Homo sapiens: one gene and its partners. The protein of the gene in region 1 purifies or fractionates together with the protein of each later gene. This does not show direct contact. Each region holds a gene or a part of one and is shown in the gene's direction. Other genes may lie near its edges.

Region 1 (4,371 bases):
TCCCGAGTAGCTGGGATTACAGGCGCACGCTGCCACGCCCGGCTAATTTTTTGTATTTTAGTAGAGACGGGGTTTCACCGTGTTACCCAGGCTGGTCTGGAACTCCTGAGCTCAGGCAATCCGCCTGCCTCGGCCTCTCAAAGTGCTGAGATTACAGGTGTGAGCCACTGCGCCCGGCACCTTAAATACACTTTTAAAGTTAAACTTATGGAGGGAAAACCCTCATCTATTGACATAGATTGTATGTCCTTTTTTGGTCCCTCCATGAAGGAGCACCGTTTTCTCCATCATTTCTTCTTCCCTTCACCCGTCAGAGTGACCGAGGCTGGGGACCCCAGAAGCCCCAGAGCAGGCCCGAATCTGGGACTTCCACGGTCCTGGGGGAGGGGTGCGGGGACACTCACGTGTGGCGCGGATGTCCGGGGTGTGAAGGCAGCGGGCGCAGCTCGGCGGCGCCGGAGGAGCCCTCTGCGCCCAGGAACAAGACAGGGAAGATGAAGCCGGGGCTGAGGCGCAGGCGCGGGCGCGGCCTGGGGTGTGGCCTGGGGTGTGGCCTGGGGCGTGGCCTGGGGCGTGGCCTGGCCCGACCACCCGCCCGCTCCGCCCAGGACCCCCTCCCAGGCCTCAGCTCCGGGCGACGTGGAGTGGGGCGGTCCTGGCGGGCCGAGATGCCGTCCTGCGCTGCGAGGGACCCATCCCCGACGTCACCTTCGAGCTGCTGCGCGAGGGCGAGACGAAGGCCGTGAAGACGGTCCGCACCCCCGGGGCCGCGGCGAACCTCGAGCTGATCTTCGTGGGGCCCCAGCACGCCGGCAACTACAGGTGCCGCTACCGCTCCTGGGTGCCCCACACCTTCGAATCGGAGCTCAGCGACCCTGTGGAGCTCCTGGTGGCAGGTGACGTTTCCCTGGGTCCCGGGTGCTGGTTCCGTCTGCTGATGTTTGCCTGGGCTGTGCCCACCTCCAGGAGGGCCTCTCCCGGCTCCTCCCTTGGGCACCCCTGGTTAGCGCTGGGTCTCCCCAGGGCTCGTGGGGGAATTGCGGGCGAGGAACCGCCCAGCAAAGGCCCTGCAGCTGGAGGCGCAGATGGGGGTCTCGGCTGGCAGCCGACCACGCGCTTCCTTCCGGGGGGGCGTCAGGGAGGTCGGCCTTGATTTCCGCGAGGAGGAGGGCATAGGATTTCCCCTCCTCCACCATTTCTCTTTTCTCCCGTTGTCTAGAAAGCTGATGCAGCCGCGGGCCCAGGGTGCTGTTGGTGTCCTCAGAAGTGCCGGGGATTCTGGACTGGCTCCCTCCCCTCCTGTTGCAGCACAAGGCCGGGGTCTCTGGGGGGCTGGAGAAGCCTCCCTCATTCCTCCCAGGAATTAATAAATGTGAAGAGAGGCTCTGTTTAAAATGTCTTTGGACTCCCAGGGCTGAGTGGGCTGGGATCTCGTGTCCTCAAAGTGGATGGGTTCTGGGGTGGCTCCTGAGGTAGAGGAGTGGAGAACTGGCTCTTAAGAGCACAGTTTTCTTTTCTTTTTTCTTTTTTGAGACAGGGTCTCACACTGTCACCCAGGCTGGAGTGCAGTGTTGCAGTCCGGCTCACTGCAGTTTTGACCTCCCAGGCTCAAGCGATCCTCCTGCCTCAGCCTCCCAAGTAGCTGGGAGCCTGGGCATGCATCGCCACGTCTGGCTAATTATTATTTTTTGTAGACAGGGTCTCACTGTGTTGCCCAAGCTTGTCTTGAACTCCTGGCCTTAAGTGATCCTCCCACCTCAGCCTCCTGAGTAGCTGGGACTACAGGCATGAGCCACCATGCCTGGCCAACTCACATTTTTCTTTCTATTATTTATTTTTTGTAGAGATGAGTCTCACTATGTTGCCCAGGCTGGTCTTGAACTCTTGGGCTCAAGTGATCCTCCCGCCTCAGCCTCCCAAAGTGTTGGGATTACAGGTGTGAGCCACAGCACCTGGCCAACCAACACTTCTCAGGGCCTCTTTCATCTGTGCTCTTCCAGGATGCTGCCTCTTACTCCCTGGGCACCTCGGCCTGGTCCCAGCAGGTATGGGCAGTTGCTTGAGGCTCCAGACATACTCACCTCTACCTCGACCACATCAACCCCATCACCAAGAGGAGGTTCAGGGAAGCTGCATTTTGTGGTCTTGTCCTCCCAGTCCAGGGTGGTAGTGCTGGGCTGTTCCCAGCCTCCCACAGCAGAGCTGGACGCTGTGGAAATGGCTGGATTCCTCTGTGTTCTTTCCCATTATCCCTCAGCTCTGAGTCCTCTTGTGCCATCTGACATCTGATGCCTTCCCAACCACTGCCGAGTTTCTGCCTGGAGCAGGGCCTCAAGGCCCTGGCACACAGAAGATGCGTATCAGTATTATCAACCAATAGTTGATGAATTGTGTTTTTCAACGAATTTGCTAGTGATCTGGTTTACTGCCTTAGTAATATCTAGTTCCTAATATGCCTATGCCTTTTAATGTCTGCACAGTCTATGATGATGTCACTTCTCTCAAGCCTGATGTGTCCTCTCTCTCTTTCTTGCTAGTGGTTTATCAATTTTTAAAACCTTTTCTTGTTTATTTGTTTTTGAGACAGAATTTTGCTCTTGTTGCCCAGGCTGGAGTGCAATGGCGTGATCTTGGCTCACAGCAACCTCTACCTCCTGGGTTCAAGTGATTCTCGTGCCTCAGCCTCCTGAGTAGCTGGGCTGACAGGCACCCACCACCACACCCAGCTAATTTTTATGTTTTTAGTAGAGATGGGGTTTCACCTTGTTGGGTGGCCAGGCTGGTCTCCAACTCCTGAGCTCAAGTGATCCACCCGCCTCAGCCTCCCAAAGTGCTGGGATTACAGGGGTGAGCCACCACGCCCAGCCCCAGCTTAGTTTTTTAAAAAGTTTATTTTAGCCATTCTAATAGGTATGTAGACATATCTAATAGTGGTTTTCCTTGCGTTTCCTTAATGTCTGATGATGTTAAGCATTTTTTCCCCAAGTGCTTAGTTGCCATCTATATAGCATCTTTGATGAAATGTCTGTTTATATATTTTGCACACTTTAAAATATTGGGTTGTTTTCTTTTTTCTTCTCTTTTCTTTTTTCTTCTCTTTTCTTTCTTTTTGAGAGAGTCATGCTCTGTTGCCCAGGCTGGGGTGCAGTGGCATGATTTCAGCTCACTGCAACTTCCGCCGCCCAGGTTCAAGCGATTCAACTCCCTCAGCCTCCTGTGTAGCTGGGATTACAGGCATGTGCCACCACACTGGCTGATTTTTGTATATTTAGTGGAGAGGGGGTTTCACCATGTTGGCCACACTGGTCTTCAACTCCTGACCTCAAGTGATCCACCTGCCTCAGCCTTCCAAAGTGTTGGGACTACAGGCATGAGCCACCGTGCCTGGCCTGTTTGTTTTCTTACTATTGAGTTTTGTTTGTTTGCTTTTGCTTTTTTTTTTTTTTTCCCGAATCTCACTCTGTTGCCCAGGCTGGAGTGCAGTGGTGTGATCTCGGCTCACTGCAACCTCCGCCTGCCAGGTTCAAGCAATTCTCCTGCCTCAGCCTCCGGAGTAGCTGGTACTACAGGCACCCACCAGCATGCCCGGCTAGTTTTTTGTATTTTTAGTAGAGATGGGGTTTCACCATGCTGTCCAGGCTGGTCTCAAACTCCTGACCTTGTGATCCCAACCGCCTCAGCCTCCCAAAGTACTGGCGTGAGCCACCGCACCCGGTCATTTTTTGTATCTTTAGTAGAGACAGTATTTCGCCATGTTGGTCTCAAACTCCTGAGCTCAAGTGGTCTGTCCACCTCAGCCTCCCAAAGTGCTAGGATTACACTGCACCTGGCCTCCAGCCACATTTTTTTTCTTTTTTTTTTTTTTTTTTTGAGACAGAGTCTTGCTCTGTCGCCCAGGCTGGAGTGCAGTGGCGTGATCTCGGCTCACTGCAAGCTCTGCCTCCCAGGTTCATGCCATTCTCCTGCCTCAGTCTCCCAAGTAGCTGGGATTACAGGAGCCCACCACCACGCCCAGCTAATTTTTTTGTATTTTTAGTAGAGATGGGGTTTCAACATGTTAGCCAGGATGGTCTCCATCTCCTGCCCTTGGGATCCGCCCACCTCAGCCTCCCAAAGTGCTGGGATTACAGACGTGAGCCACCGCGCCCAGCCGCCTCCAGCCATATTTTAAAGATAAAATAATTGTGCAATCTCTATTACTATCATTTAATTCCCAAAGTTCCCGCTTTCCCTCTGGTATCATTTCCCTTCTACCAAGAGTTTCCTTTGGCATTTCTTTTCAGGCAAGTCTGCTGGCAAGAAATATATATCTTAGGTTTGTTTCATTTGAGGATGTCTGTATTTTGCCTTCGTTCTTTAAGTGTGTTTGCA
Region 2 (4,966 bases), about 22 Mb from region 1:
GGCTCAGGGAACGCTGCCTTGACTCTGAGACCTGAAGGAAGCGAGAGGGTGACCCATAAGAAGCTGTAGGGAGAGCGCTTCAGGCAGGGGGCACAGGAAGGGCAAAGGCCCTGCAGTGGTTAAGAATCTCCGGCGCTTTAGAAGCAGCCAGGGATCTGGGTGCCTGGAGAAAGGAGCAGGGAAGATGAGGCTGGACCAGGCAGAAGCCACATCCCGTAGGCCTTGCAGCCTTGTAGAGGGTCTGCATAGCATGCTGAGTGCAGAGAGCAGCCACAGGAGGGCACCACAGGCCAGGAATGTGCTTTTCACCCCCAGCCCTCCAGCAGCTCTATTCCCTGCTTTGCTTTTCTCCACAAAATTTGCTCCCATCTCTGATATGCTGTCCAGTTTCCTCATTGATGGTATTCACTGTGGGTCTCCCTCAGTGTGAGCACTCTTGAGAGCAGGGACTTTCTCTGAGTTCATTTCTGTGTCCCTAGCACCAAAGAGCAGTATCTGGCATATTGATGGCTATTTTCTAAGAGAAAGACTTAACATGATTTGGGTTTTAGAAAGATCCCTTCAGCTATAAGTTTACTGGGGAAGGACCCGCTCCTCTGCCTTGGGGCTAACTGATCACTGCTACCCTGGGGATGTGGTCCCAATAGGGCTGTGACCTTTGGAAGGCACACCATGTCCCTCCTTGGCATAGCTCAGGCTCAGCTCCTTTGGCCCAGTTCTCCAGGTGGATGGATAAGGAGTGGGTTTTCTCCTGCCCTTATGGTCCCTAAGGTACGGTCCTTAAGCTACGGCAGGTTCTTGTTATCTGACAGAAGTGCATTCCCTCTTGAAAGTGGCTTTTTGGACCTTTTGCTCCTAACTGTGGGTTCTGTTACTGGTGATAAGGGCAGAGCTGGGTTCCATTCCTGGCTCAAGCGTCTATTCACTGTGGAATCTCAGGTGAGACACTTCTTTCAGAGCCTTGGTCTCCTCTGAAAATAAAATAGCTGCCTCCAACTGGGAGAGCATTCATAAGGCAGCAGCTACAAACCAGAGTCACACACACTTGCCCAATATAGTATGTTTTAAAGGTTGGATAAGTGGACAACATTTCAAGTTTTTTAACACAAAAATCCAAATGTCCCTTTTGTTTGGAGAAGTGAGAAATTCTCTGGCCTCTGGGGCCCAAATTCCCCTGTGGCAGTGAGGGGCTGAGCTTAGTGAAATTTGTCAGGCCCGTTGTGGCCAGTTCCTCACACCTGTGTTGCCTCCCTAATCCCTGTAGGCAGTGGAGTGGGTGGCCTGGATCTATAGTAGATGGTATGCAGGTGTCCGCCCTTGGCCACCAGTGGGTGTGCATTAGGAGGTGGTGTGGCCAGTGTGGGGATTTTCACTCCAACTGCATATCAGAATCACCTGGTCCCTGTGCCTCACCGCCCCCCCACCGCCACGCAAGAGAAAGCCAAATCAGTTGATCTGGGATGAAACTTGGGCATTGGCAATTTTGAGACTTTTTATATTGAAATAATTTCAGACTTAGAATAGTACAAAGAGCTCCTATATACCTATGTACCTTTCACATATTTCACAAATGTTAGCTTTTTTTTCTTTTTTTTTTTTGGACACAGAGTCTTGCTCTGTCACCCAGGCTGCTGGAGTGCAGTGGCACAGTCTCAGCTCACTGCAACTTCCACCTCCCGGGTTCAGGTGATTCTCATGCCTCAGCCCCCCAGGTGGCTGGGACCACAGGCATGTGCCACCATGCCCAGCTAGTTTTTTGTGTTTTAGTGGAGACGGGGTTCATCATGTTGCCCAAGGTGGTCTTGAACTCCTGAGCTTAGACAGTCTGCCTGCCTCAGCCTCCCAAAGTGCTAGGATTACAGGTGCGAGCCACTGCACTTGGCCAAATGTTAGCATTTTACCACATTTGCTTTATCATTTTTTGTCTATATACATATTAATTTGTTCTGAACTATTTGAGAATCAGTTGTAGACATGATGCCCCTATATCTCTAAATACTTCACGCCAGGCATGGTGATTCACGCCTGTAATCTCAGCACTGTGGGAGGCCTTGGAGGCAGGAAGATCATTTGAGGTCAGGAGTTTGAGACCAGCCTGGGGAACATGGCAAAACCCTGTCTCTACTAAAAATACAAAAATTAGCCAGGCCTGGTGGCAGGCGCCTGTAATCCCAGCTACTCGGGAGGCTGAGGCAGGAGAATCGCTTGAACCCGGGAGGCAGAGGTTGCAGTGAGCCAAGATCATGCCACTGCACTCCAGCCTGGGTGACAGAGCAAGAGTCCGTCTCAAAAAAAAAAAAAAAAAAAAAAAAAACTTAATCAAATAAATACTTCAGTGTGTATTTCCTACAAAAAAAAATGACAATCTTTTTAAACTGTAATACATCCAGCAAAATCAGGAAATGAAAATTGATATATCACTCTCATCCACTCCCCAGAGGGCACCATTCAGGAGTCAGCCTTTGTCCCATGAATGTCCTTTATGGCCAAAGGATTCTGTCTAGAATCACACATTGCATTGAGTTGTCCCCTCAGTCTCTTTCAGGCTGACGTGGCTCCTCTGTCTTTTCTTGACTTTCAGGATCTTGACATTTTTTTTTTTCTTTTTGAGATGGAGTCTCTGTCGTCAGGCTGGAGTGCAGTGGTGGGATCCTGGCTCACTGCAACCTGACTCCCCAGTTCAAGTGATTCTCCTGCCTCAGCCTCCCGAGTAGCTAGGATTACAGGCATATGCCACCATGTCCGGCTAATTTTTGTATTTTTAGTAGAGCTGGGGTTTCCCCATGTTGGCCAGGATGGTCTCGATCTCCTGACCTTGTGATCCGCCCGCCTTGGCCTCCCAAAGTGCTGGGATTACAGGCGTGAGCCACAGCACCTGGCCACTTTTTTTTGTTTTTTTGTTTTTTGAGACGAAGTCTCACACTGTCGCCCGGGCTGGAGTGCAGTGGGGCGATCTTGGCTCGCTGCAGCCTCCACCTCCTGGGTTCAAGCGATTCTCTGCCTCAGCCTCCTGAGTAGCTGGGACTACAGGCATGCGCCACCGTGCCTGGCTAATTTTTGTATTTTTTTTTAGTAGAGACGGGGTTTCACTATGTTGGTCAGGCTGGTCACGAACTCCTGACCTCGTGATCCACCCGCCTCGGCCTCCCAAAGTGCTGGGATTACAGGCTTGAGCCACTGCACCCGGCCAATCTTGACACTGAGGATTGTAGACGAGGTATTTTGTAGAGTGTCCCAGCATTTGGGTTTGTCCAATGCCTCCTCACGGGCAGACTCAGGTTCTGCATCTTTGGCAGGAACAGACCAGAAGGGGTGCTGTGTTCTTCCTGGTGCCTCCTCTCAGGAGGTCTCCTATGACTGGTGGTGTTCACTGGGAGCACTTGGCCAAGGTGTTGCCTGCCAGATTCCTCCACTTCAAAGCCTCTCTTTTCACCTTTGTGATTAGCAGGTATCCTGGGGACATCTTTCCTGAGACAGTGCAAATATTATCTTGTTCCTCACCAAACTTTCACTCAACTAATCTTAGGCTTTGACACTTTTCAGATGCTCCCCAGGGAAATCTAATGTACAGCCAGGACTGAGAACTACTGGCTTAGAGGTCAGGGCTCTGCCCTGTCTGGTTAGGTAACTGCAGGCAGGGGACTTCCTTGTGTTGCAGTCACCTCATCTGCCAAGTTGGTTCATGAGAGCCCTGACTCCATGAAGCATGCTTGAGGAATCAGTGCACTGATGGCCAGACAGCATTTGCCAGAGGGCCAGGCACAAGGTCAGGGCATGCGACAGGTTAGAGGTGGCTACGGGCAACAGAAACCCCTCCACAGCATGGCTTAAAACCCAAGAGCATGCTCTTCCTGCATGTCATAAGTCCAGAGGTGGGCAGCCCAGGGGCTGTGTCTCTGAACGCCACATTTTTTTTTTCTGTCTCTCTTTTTGAGACAGAGTCTCACTCTGTTGCCCAGGCTGGAGTGCAGTGGCGCGATCTTGGCTCACTGCAAGCTCCGCCTCCTGGGTTCACACCATTCTCCTGCCTCAGCCTCCCAAGTAGCTGGGACTACAGGCGCCCACCACCACGCCTGGCTAATTTTGTTTTTGTATTTTTAGTATAGACAGGGTTTCACCGTGTTAGCCAGGGTGGTCTCGATCTCCTGACCTTGTGATCTGCCCACCTCAGCCTCCCAAAGTGCTGGGATTACAGGCGTGAGCCACCGCGCCCAGCCCCACTTCTTTTTTTCTCTAGACGGAGTCTTGGTCTGTTGCCCAGGCTGGAGTGCAGCAGCACGATCTTGGCTTGCTGCAACCTCTGCCTCCCGGGTTCAAGCAATTCTCCTGCCTCAGCCTCCCGAGTAGCCGGGATTACAGGCTCCTGCCACCACACCTGGCTATTTTTTGTATTTTTAGTAGAGGTGGGGTTTTGTCGTGTTGGCCAGGCTGTTCGCGAATTCCTGACCTCAAGTGAACCACCCACCCCTCTGCCTCCCAAAGTGCTGGGATTACAGGCGTGAGGCACCGCACCCGGCCCCCATTCCTTCTCTCCTGTTCCACCCCATTTATTGTGAGGCTTCTGGTCTTGAAGTCACTTCATGGCCCAAGATGGAGTTCTGGCTGTCGTGTGCGTATTTCAGGAGGGGAACTGGTAGGAAGCAGGGCAAAGGGTTCCCTTTGACGAGTATTTCAGGAAGTCCCACACAGCATGTCAGTTTACTTCTCCTTGGCCAGACTAAGTCATGTAGCTGTACCTGCATAGTTGCAAGCATAAAACTGGGGTTATGTCAGTAAGGAAAGAGAGGCGAGTGGATATCCAGGAGGCAGCTTGCCCTGTTTGTTGCAGTAAGGAGCCACGGGAAGCCTGGGAAGCAGGTTGACTTGATGATGAATATTCCATGAAGTTGCCAAAGTCTCACTTAGCGACATTTACTTAGTTATCTACACACCAATTTACCATCTCACGTAGGGAGACAATTATTAG
Region 3 (4,966 bases), on another chromosome or scaffold:
GCATTTAATCAGATCTCTGCTGTCTTATTTGGGAATTGGCTCTCAAGTATAGCTTGCTTTGGAGAAGTGTGCCATAGGCTTGTATCTGTCTTTACCATTCAAGACTGGACTTACACGTAAATGTGCACTAAATAGCACATTTTAAAGTTTTTTTTAATGGAAACTATTTTGCTAGACCATACAAATGAATCAGGCAGGCTGTTAGAAGGCCCTGCCAGAGATCAAGTTTGGTGTGTCTGAAACTGTTGTGTTTGACCCTGAGGGACCTTGTGTGAACAGTTCTTGCTTAGGTTTCTACTGCTTTTCACTGATTTAGGATCTGCTGTGTTTTCTGTTGGTTAAAACTTGATAATAGTAAAACTTACAGCAGAATACTCGTCCAGAAAGATGTCTTATTGACGTTCATTTATTAAGCTGCTTTCTTTACTTCCATTTCAGATTTGTCCAATATGTGCAGCGTTACCTGGAGGCGATCCTAATCATGTCACGGATGACTTTGCAGCTCATCTTACACTTGAACACAGAGCCCCTAGAGATTTAATATCCTTTTAAGAGATGACAAGGAAAAGAGTTGTTTGTAATGTTTGTCATTTTGATTTTTTGTTTTGGAGACAAGATCTCGCTGTGTCGACCTGGCTGGTCTCAAACTCCTGAGCTCAAGTGATCCTCCTGCTTCAGCCTCTTGAGTAGCTGGGACTATAGGCACACATGTGCCACTGCATCCAGCTTGTCATTTTGATTTTTTTTAAGGATCATATCCCCCAAAAGAGGAAAAGTAATGTCCAAATTATTTTTACTTATTTGAACTTTTCCTAAAAGTGACTCAGTGCTGAGATGCAATTTATTTCTCTTTTTATATACTATCACCATTGTATGAACCATTTTCATTAAGTGAAAGTTGACTTGTCCTTCATCTTTAGTTCATTACAATTAGATTTTTTTTAAGGCAGTTTGACCAAATTGTGTCTTCCAGGATGGCGTTTTCATACAAAAGAGGAAAATGTTAATCCAAATTAAAATTTAATTAGTTAAATATGAAGAGGCATTATTTGCTTTCCCTCTCTGTTCCTCTGCTGCCTTACCCTGTTGTGGGTGTGGTGTGGTGAGATGGTGGGGACAGGTGTGCATCTTGGTGTTCCTTTCCTTTTTGGGGTCCCCTTCTCCAGAGAGAGCCATTTCCTGCCGAGTTCCTGAGTAGGATAGCATAAGGTCAGCTCTAGCTTTAAATTTCCTTTCCTGCTTTTCTTTTCTTTTCTTTTTTTTTTAAAAGTCGGAGTCTTGCTCTGTCAGCCAGGCTGGAGTACAATGGTGCTATCTTCAGCTTATTGCAACCTCCACCTCCTGGATTCAAGTAATTCTCCTGCCTCAGCCTCCCAAGTAGCTAAGATTACAGGTGCCCGCCACCACACCCAGCTAATTTTTGTATTTTTAGTAGAGATGGGGTTTCACCATATTGGCCAGGCTGGTCTCTTGGCCATGCTGGTCTTGAACTCCTGACTGCCTGCCTCAGCCTCCCAAAGTGCTGGGATTACAGGCATGAACCACTGCGCCTGGCCAATTTTTGTATTTTTTTAGTAGAGATGGGGTTTCACCATGTTGGCCAGGCTGGTCTCGAACTCCTGACCTCAGGTGATCTGCCCACCTCAGCTTCCCAAAGTGCTGGGATTCAGGCGTGAGCCACCACGCCCAGCCTCTTGCTTTTATTTCTGCATTCCCTTCCTTGTCTCTCAACAGTTTCTGGCAGTGTTCCCTGAGATTACTGGCCTACCAGAGCGATTAATTTTGTGGACTCAATGCTTCTGATTTCAGGTTATGAATTGTTCGTCTAAAACTGTCACCAGCTGGGTACAGTGGCTCATGCCTATACTCCCAGCACTTTGAAAGGCCAAGGTGGGAGGATCACTTGAGCCTAGAAGTTTGAAACCAACCTGGACAACATAGGAAGACCCCATCTCTACCAAAATAATGAGCTCAGCTGGTGGCACACACCTGTGGTCCCAGCTACTCAAGAGGCTGAGGTAGGAGGATCACTTGAGCCCATGAGCTCAAGGCTGCAGTAAGCTATGATTGCACCACTGCACTCCAGCCTGGCAACAAAGTGAGACCCTGTCTCAAGATACATATATATATGTATATATAATCATAATATAAAATTATCAAATATATAAATATGATCATATCACTTTCTCTAGAACCCAAACCATCCTCATGAATATGATGGAACAGGGCATGTACCGTGACACCTGAAGGCCTCTTGGAGCTACCCATCCGGTCCTTAAATAACTCCAGAACCATCAGCTGAAAAACTGAGAAGCCAGCCAAAAAATTAATCTGCATTATAAAGCTGGTCTGTTTGGTACTTTAAAGGAAAAATCTCTTCTATATGATCTGGCCTCCCCCACCTCTCATTTGCCTTTGTGGAAACGTAAGGTTGTCTTCATGAGTTTTGACAGCTATTTGCAACTCAGGACCTTTTTCAGTTTGACTTACACTCAGCTGTGTAAGACGGTTGAGGCTGCTGGGAATTTTTCTTCGTGATAAATGTCATGTTAATCTATCTGTGTGTCTTATACAAGAAATGCAAATCTGTTTTCTGCTTAGCAGCGGCATTGGAAAGAAGCTTGAAGACAGAGTAAAACTAATAATCCAAAAGGAACCTTTGATGTGCTGAATATACATTCAGTATTGTTCCTTTTTCATTATAGGTGGTATTTGAGATTTCATGAGCTATATAGAGAAACTTTTTTACCTCACACACCCAATACACACACACACACTCACATGTTGCCTTACATTTGAGTGTCTTTTTAGGGTTAATAGCCCTCATAGATAGAGTTGGGACATTTGCACTTTAAGTTAAATGTGCTGTTTTTAAATGCTTACAATTCAGGAAATCTTTACATCTGTCTAGCAAGGACTCAGGTGATTTTTTTTCTTTCTGTGAAATACTTTCGTTTTTTTCTTAACTTTTGGGTTATGATGAATCGAGTGGTGTTCGACATGTACGTAGAATGTTTCACCCTGGCCGGGGATTAGGAGGTCCTCGTGCTCGTAGATCAAACATGCACTTTACTAGCAGTTCTACTGGTGGACTTTCTTCTTCTCAGAGTTCATATTCTCCAAGCAATAGGGAAGCCATGGATCCTATAGCTGGTAAGTTAGTTTCACATTAATAAGGGAAATGGCAGGGGAAGGAGGAGCTCCTTTTAAAACTTTTTGTGATGCCAGGTGCGGTGGCTCACACCTTTAATCCCAGCACTCTGGGAGGCTGGAGCGGGTGGATCACTTGAGGCCAGGAATTCAAGACCAGCCTGGCCAACATGGCAAAACTCCATCTCTACTAAAAATAAAAAAATTAGCCAGATTTGGTGGTGGGTGCCTGTAATCGCAGCTACTCTGGATGCTGAGGCATGAGAATCGCTTGAGCCTGAAAGGTGGAGGTTCCAGGGAGCCGAGATCGCACCACTGCAGTCCAGCCTGGGTGATGGAGTGAGACCCTGTCTCAAAAAAAAAAAAAAAAACTTTTTGTGAGATTTGTGTTCTTAAGTCTCACCTCTCTGATCATAAGCCATGTTCCTTCACAAAATTCCCAAATACATTAAAAGTGTAAAATGTGTTAAAAGCAGACACTTAACATAAAGTAATTCATACTCTTCTGGCATTGCTTAAGTCCAGTAGTCCCCCCGTCATGTGGTTTTGCTTTCCTGGGTTTCAGTTACCCACAACCAACTACAGTCAAAAAATAGGTGAGTACAGGACAATAAGATACTTAGAGAGAGACCACATCACATAACTTTCATAGTATATTTTTAGATTTACTCTATTTTGTTGGGAATCTCATGTTCCTAATTTATAAATTAGGTGCCTAATTTATAAATTAAACTTTAGCACAACAGATAAGTATGTATAGGAAAAAACATAGTATGTATAGGGTTCTGTATTATCCAAATGCCCATTTCAGCCATTCACTGGGGGTTTTGGAACGTATCTCCTGCAGGTAAAGGGAGACTACTGTTCTTAGAGACAAAAGATGATAAGAAATGGTTTTATGTTGTATTTGTGGCCTCTATTGAAGCCCAAGGAAATCATAAAAGATTTCAACTTGAATACCTCCAAAATGTCATGGTTAAATCTCCATAAGTACACATAAAAAAATGTCCAAAGCACATTTGAAATTAAGGTTTTATAAGGTATAGCTAACATTTTTAAGAACATGTTATGTGTAAAATTCTGTCACAGATTTATGCCTATCTCAGATGTTGTGCAAGGCGCCTCATGGCTTCCAGGTACACATTCCACCACATGGACACATTTCAGAACTGTTATCTATAGCTAATTGAAAAGACTAAAGAATTAAGCTCTTCTCATGGAAGAAAGGAAAGTAGGACTTAATGTCCTGACCTTGATTTGAGAACTATATTGTTGTAGAACATACTGAAAGGTACATGTTTAATAGCTTGGGAAAAATCTTAAAAAAAAAAAAAAAAACACAGTTTTTGAACCTGGCCATGTCACTGAGTCTAGTACATGACAAACCTAGGAAGTTGGTAGCAGAACACAGGGTCAAAATAAAATACAAGAAATCACTGTAGCCTGATAATCTGCAAGACACACCAAGCAGACAAGTGGTAAGACAGTGGGAAGTGTGCACACATTTAAAGCAACAATTCTGAAATGTGTCCATGTGGTGAAGTGTGCACCTACCTGGAAGCCATGAGCACCCTGCAGAACACCTGAAACATTGATAAGTGTAAATCTGTAATAGAAACTGAGAACATCAGAGCTAAATGACAACTTAGGAACACAAAGGAGGAGACAGCAGACACTGGGGGAGGGTAGCAAGAGAGAGAGGAGCAGAAAGATAACTGTTGGGTACTGGGCTTAATTGGGTCCTGGGTGATGTAATAATATGTATGACAAACCCTCGTGGCAGGTGTTTAACTGTGTAACGGACCTTCACATGTAC
Region 4 (4,966 bases), on another chromosome or scaffold:
GTCTCAGGCCGACTGCCCACAGATATGTGCAGTCTGCTCTCAGGATCAGGCACACGACTTTTGGGGTCAGGTACAAGAGTAGCTGCTCCAAGTGTGGGCTTGTTAAGAACTGTTTTCTTTTGAGACAGGGTCTCGCTATGTCACAGTCATAGCTCACTGCAACCTCAAAGTCCCAGGCTCAAGGAATCCTCCCACCTCAGCCTCCCACATAGCTGGGACCACAAGCACATGCCACAGCACCCAGCTAATTTTTTTTTTTTAAGAGACAGGGTCTTACTGTGTCACCCAGGCTGGTCTCAAACCCCTGGGCTCAAGTGATTCTCCCACCTCAGCCTCCCAAAGTGCTGAGACTACAGGTGTGAGCCACCATGCTTGGCCTGTAACTGCTTTTGAGGAAGGCTCCTTTATCCTTGGGCCCACTGGGGTATTCAGAGATGGGGTTGGCTTTAGCCTTCTATGCTACTAGCTGAGCACCCCGACTGCATAGCCACCACCTGGCCTTGGCCTGGGACAGAGCAGCAGTGGGGAGGGGCCTTTGTGCATCTCTGCTCCTACAGCTCAGGGCTGGGAGTGGCTTACACTGGGGAATATGTGATCCCTGAGCCTGGGTAGTGGCTACTTTGTCAGGGTGCTTGTCCAACCTTTGTCCCCTTCCAGAGCTTTCTGTCTGTGTGGATGAGTGGGGTAAGAACTGGCATTAAAGGTGGAAGAGCAGGTGGTGGCACCCTGTGGGCAGCCAGGTGTGTAATGGGCCTCTGTTCTGCCTGAGTCCTGCTGGTTACCACCACCTCACTCCCTGCTATTCTTAGCAGCTGAGCTCAGGACAGCACTGACTGGCATTAGACAGTACCCTTTTCCCTCTAGGCCTGTGTGTTGAGAGGATGAGGGGGCCACCCAGACAGATTTTTCCCAACTCCTTTGGCTCGGGTAGGTGGGTCATGTGCTCCGCTGACCATTTATGGACTGGCGGGTACAGGACAGAGCCATCCAGCAGCTCAGAGGGCTGAGCCTTTCATACTTCCAGAACATGTCCCATTCAACACAGACTCCCCTGGCTGGGTGGTGGCGAGACTGGAATCTGCCCCAAAGGAACCACAGGCCTAGGGGCAAGGGTTGGACTAGGTGGCCTTGGTACTGACCACTTTGGGAACCAGCATTTCTCCCAGCCTTCTTCTTCCAGACATCATCAGCACAGCCACCTTTGAGAGCGGACAGGTTATGTGCTATGCAGACAGCACTTGTTATTCCCTGGGCTCTTCACAGCATCTCTAACATAAGTCACTATTCTGTTTTTACAGATGAAGGAATTAAGACTTAGAGAGGGCTACTTTTTTTTTTTTTTTTTGAGACAGAGTCTTGCTCTGTCACCCAGACTAGAGTGCAGTGGCACGATCATGGCTCACTGCAACCTCCGCCTCCCAGGTTCAAGCAATTCTCCTGCCTCCGCCTCCCAAGTAGCTGGTATTACAGGCACATGCCACCGCGCCCAGCATTTTTAGTAGAGTCGCAATTTCACCATGTTGGCCAGGCTGGTCTTGAACTACTGACCTCGTGATCTGCCCGCCTCAGCCTCCCAAAGTGCTGGGATTACAGGCATGAGCCACCGCACCTGGCCACATACTTTTTTTTTTTTTTTTTTTGAGACAGAGTCTTACTCTTGTTGCCCGGGCTGAAGTACAATGACACGATCTTGGCTTACTACAACCTCTGCCCCACCAAGGTTCAAGCTATTCTCCTGCCTCTGTCTCCCGAGTAGCTGGGATTATACGCATGCGCCACCACACTCAGCTAATTTTTGTATTTTTAGTAGGGATGGGGTTTCACCATGTGGCCAGGCTGGTCTCGAACTCCTGACCTCAGGTGATCTGCCCGCCTCGGCCTCCCAAAGTGCTGGGATTACAGGCATGGGCCACCACACCCGGCCTGGACTGGTTATACTTTTGAGTTTAGTGGAGAATTCGGCCTTCTGACCTCCTGCATGCCAGAGTCTAGGACTAGGCACAGCCCTTTTTCTGGAGTCTAGGCAGCCCCCCTGTGAGCTCAGGGGAAAGGATGGGATTTAGTGTCATCTGGCTGATTTCAAGGACTTGTGGACCCCTGGCAGCCTCTCACTCTCCCCAGGAAACCCCTGAACTTCCAGAACCTGCCAGAACATTTGGACCAGTTGCTACAGGTGGACAATGAGGAGGAGGAAAGCCAGGGTATGTGGCCACCTCTGGAGTGGGGTTGGGAGGTGCAGAGCTGGGACGTAGCGGGCCTGGAGACGTCTGGTGAGCTCAGGACACCCTATGCATCCTGTCAAATGCTCCACCCTGCCTGACCCCACCTCTCCTCTTTTCAGGACAGGTTGAAGGGCGGCTTGGCCCATCCACTGTGGTCCTGGACCACACAGGCGGCTTTGAGGGGCTTCTCCTGGTGGATGATGACCTGCTGGGGGTGAGTGAGGGTGAGGTGTGGAGACCCAGGTCCAGCCCCTTCTGACATAGCCCCAGGCTCCTCCTGATGTGGCCCTAGTCTCTCTACTCATCTGATGGGGCTGCAGCCAAAACTTGTCCTGACGTGGCCCCAGACCATTGTGTTCTCAGTCCTCAAACTCTCCCACTAAAGCCCTGAAACAGTCTTGATGTGGACTCAGCCCCCAGCCCTTCCCAGCACAGCCCTGAGTCCCTCTCTCATCCTGCCTTGGCCCAGGATCCTTCCTGATACAAGCCTACCCGCTCCCACCGTCCTCAGGCACAGTGCAGTGTTGGCCGCCACAGGCAAATACCACCAGGGCTGGCTCAGTTGGGGATGGGGTCTTTTTCCCTTGGGGAGATGCTCTGTGTGCCTGGGAGCTAGCCCACCACCCCTCTTCTTCACCCAGGTGATTGGACACAGCAACTTTGGCACCATCCGCTCTACCACATGCGTGTACAAAGGTGAGACCTTACCCTGCTGTGGCCTAGGTAGTGAGGAGAAAGTTTAAGGGCCCAGGCATGAGGCAAGAGGCAGTCTTTGTCCACCTCGTGGCCCTAACTCAGCTCTTTCCAGGGAAATGGCTCTACGAGGTCCTCATCTCCTCCCAGGGGCTCATGCAGATCGGCTGGTGCACCATCAGCTGCCGCTTCAACCAGGAGGTACACGTTGGGGAGGGGACCCCTCCCTGGGCCCAGGGAGAGCTTCTCCTGCCACAGGCCTCATCAGGTCTCCAGATCCCCTCAGAACTGCCTAGGACCCTAACTAACCTGGACTGCCCTCTGGAGAAGAAACGTGTCCCACCCAATCCCAGGCACCCCAGCTCAGAGAATACCTCTTACTCTTTCCCTCAGATCATCTGTTCCCTTCTGTAGAGCCATATGCATCCAAGGCTGGTGATTGGTGGGCTCTGGCCCAGACCCTGCCTGCCTCACCAGGGACCTCATAGGCATTTCCTCCCTAGGAGGGGGTTGGAGATACACACAACTCCTATGCCTATGATGGCAACCGCGTGCGCAAGTGGAATGTGACCACAACGAATTATGGCAAGGTGAGAGCCAAGCCCCTGTGGGTCATCCGCCCCATGACTGTTACTACAGCTTATTTGGAGCCACTGGGCAGCCATAAGGGACTACAGGGCACCAGGGAAGGGTCAGGGACCCAGGTCCTTTGTCCTTGTGGCTAGTCTCCCTTGGGTGGTTCTGGAAACGCAGCTGGGGTTCAGAGTCAGCAGGCTGCTGGGCTTCTGTGCATCTGGTGAGGCCTCCTCTCATGGCAGGCGTGGGCAGCGGGGGACATCGTGAGCTGCCTGATTGACCTGGATGATGGCACTCTGTCCTTCTGCCTGTGAGTTTCCTATCTCTATGCACAGGCCTGGCCCCTGGGGCCTCCCCAGACTGCCCCCAGTTTCCTGGGCCCTGTAAGGGGCCAGACTGAGTTTGATAGCCTGAGGGTGGGCAGCCACATGCTTAGCACTGGCTCACAGACCCACCCTTCTCCCCAGGAACGGTGTATCACTGGGCACTGCCTTTGAGAACCTGTCCAGGGGCCTGGGTATGGCCTACTTCCCAGCCATCAGCCTCTCTTTCAAGGAGTCCGTGGCCTTCAACTTTGGCAGCCGTCCTCTGCGATATCATTTTGTGAAGATGGCTGTGGGCTGCTCAGAAGCTCTTGGGGAGGCTGGGATGAGGGGCTCCCTACCCCAGGGGTGCCATGGGCTGGTGGCAGGCCCTGGCTGCTGCAGAGTTAGTGGGGGGCCATGTAGAGTGTCGAAGAAAACTTTCCTCGCAGCAGCCTGGTTGGTTGGGTGCCCTTGTCTCCACTGAACAGATGAGGAATGTGAAGCATCCTCCCTAGGGAGAATAAGTGGGCAAGTTGTGATGCAAACCAGCCCTGCCCTAGAGCCCAGGCCCCGGGGTGGGGGGTGGGCAGTGGAGAGGGAGTAGGCATGTCTGAGCCACAGATAAGGCGTTGCTGGCTTAACTCTGGCACCTACCCAGTGGCAGGCTACCGGCCCCTGCAGGACCCACCGAGTGCTGACCTGGTGCGGGCACAGAGGTTGCTGGGCTGCTTCCGGGCAGTGCTGAGTGTGGAGCTGGACCCTGTGGTGAGCTGGGGTCTGGGCCAGGCGGGGTGGGGGGCTTCCACAGCCTCCTGCCCCTCACACTTCTCCCTCCTCCCCCTCCACACAGGAGGGGCGGCTGTTGGACAAGGAGAGCTCCAAGTGGCGGTTGCGGGGCCAGCCCACCGTCCTCCTCACACTGGCCCACATCTTCCATCACTTTGCACCGCTTCTGGTGAGCGGCATTGGGAGGGGCATGGGAGGGGAGGAGACAGGCCATGCTAGACACGCCCGTGGTAGATGTGCCCTCACTGAGGGCTGCAGTGCTGAGGTCCCACAGCATCACCTGGCGAGGGCCCCATGTGACCAGGGCCCTCAGACCTCAGTCAGTCCCCTAGGGAAACAGGGACATTGCCAACCAAGGGCATCAGGGGATGTCCTGGAAAGAAG

Evidence for each region.
Region 2: the proteins of A1BG (region 1) and WDR62 purify together in Homo sapiens (affinity purification with mass spectrometry; 2 studies listed by BioGRID and IntAct, with this or other methods). This does not show direct contact.
Region 3: the proteins of A1BG (region 1) and KCMF1 purify together in Homo sapiens (affinity purification with mass spectrometry; 2 studies listed by BioGRID and IntAct, with this or other methods). This does not show direct contact.
Region 4: the proteins of A1BG (region 1) and RNF123 purify together in Homo sapiens (affinity purification with mass spectrometry; 2 studies listed by BioGRID and IntAct, with this or other methods). This does not show direct contact.

The regions. Positions count from the first base shown.
Region 1 is NC_000019.10:58,343,878-58,348,248, reverse strand, and holds the end of A1BG (alpha-1B-glycoprotein precursor), read left to right. Parts: intron 1-608; coding exon 609-896; intron 897-1,219; coding exon 1,220-1,227; 3' UTR 1,228-3,066; downstream 3,067-4,371.
Region 2 is NC_000019.10:36,060,362-36,065,327, forward strand, and holds part of WDR62 (WD repeat-containing protein 62), read left to right. Parts: intron 1-4,966. UniProt on the Homo sapiens protein: Required for cerebral cortical development. Plays a role in neuronal proliferation and migration.
Region 3 is NC_000002.12:85,043,126-85,048,091, forward strand, and holds part of KCMF1 (E3 ubiquitin-protein ligase KCMF1), read left to right. Parts: intron 1-438; coding exon 439-540; intron 541-2,978; coding exon 2,979-3,153; intron 3,154-4,966. UniProt on the Homo sapiens protein: E3 ubiquitin-protein ligase which accepts ubiquitin from an E2 ubiquitin-conjugating enzyme and then transfers it to targeted substrates, promoting their degradation by the proteasome.
Region 4 is NC_000003.12:49,695,022-49,699,987, forward strand, and holds part of RNF123 (E3 ubiquitin-protein ligase RNF123), read left to right. Parts: intron 1-2,121; coding exon 2,122-2,201; intron 2,202-2,341; coding exon 2,342-2,436; intron 2,437-2,863; coding exon 2,864-2,918; intron 2,919-3,030; coding exon 3,031-3,116; intron 3,117-3,418; coding exon 3,419-3,505; intron 3,506-3,733; coding exon 3,734-3,801; intron 3,802-3,958; coding exon 3,959-4,084; intron 4,085-4,446; coding exon 4,447-4,561; intron 4,562-4,646; coding exon 4,647-4,751; intron 4,752-4,966. UniProt on the Homo sapiens protein: Catalytic subunit of the KPC complex that acts as E3 ubiquitin-protein ligase. Promotes the ubiquitination and proteasome-mediated degradation of CDKN1B which is the cyclin-dependent kinase inhibitor at the G0-G1 transition of the cell cycle.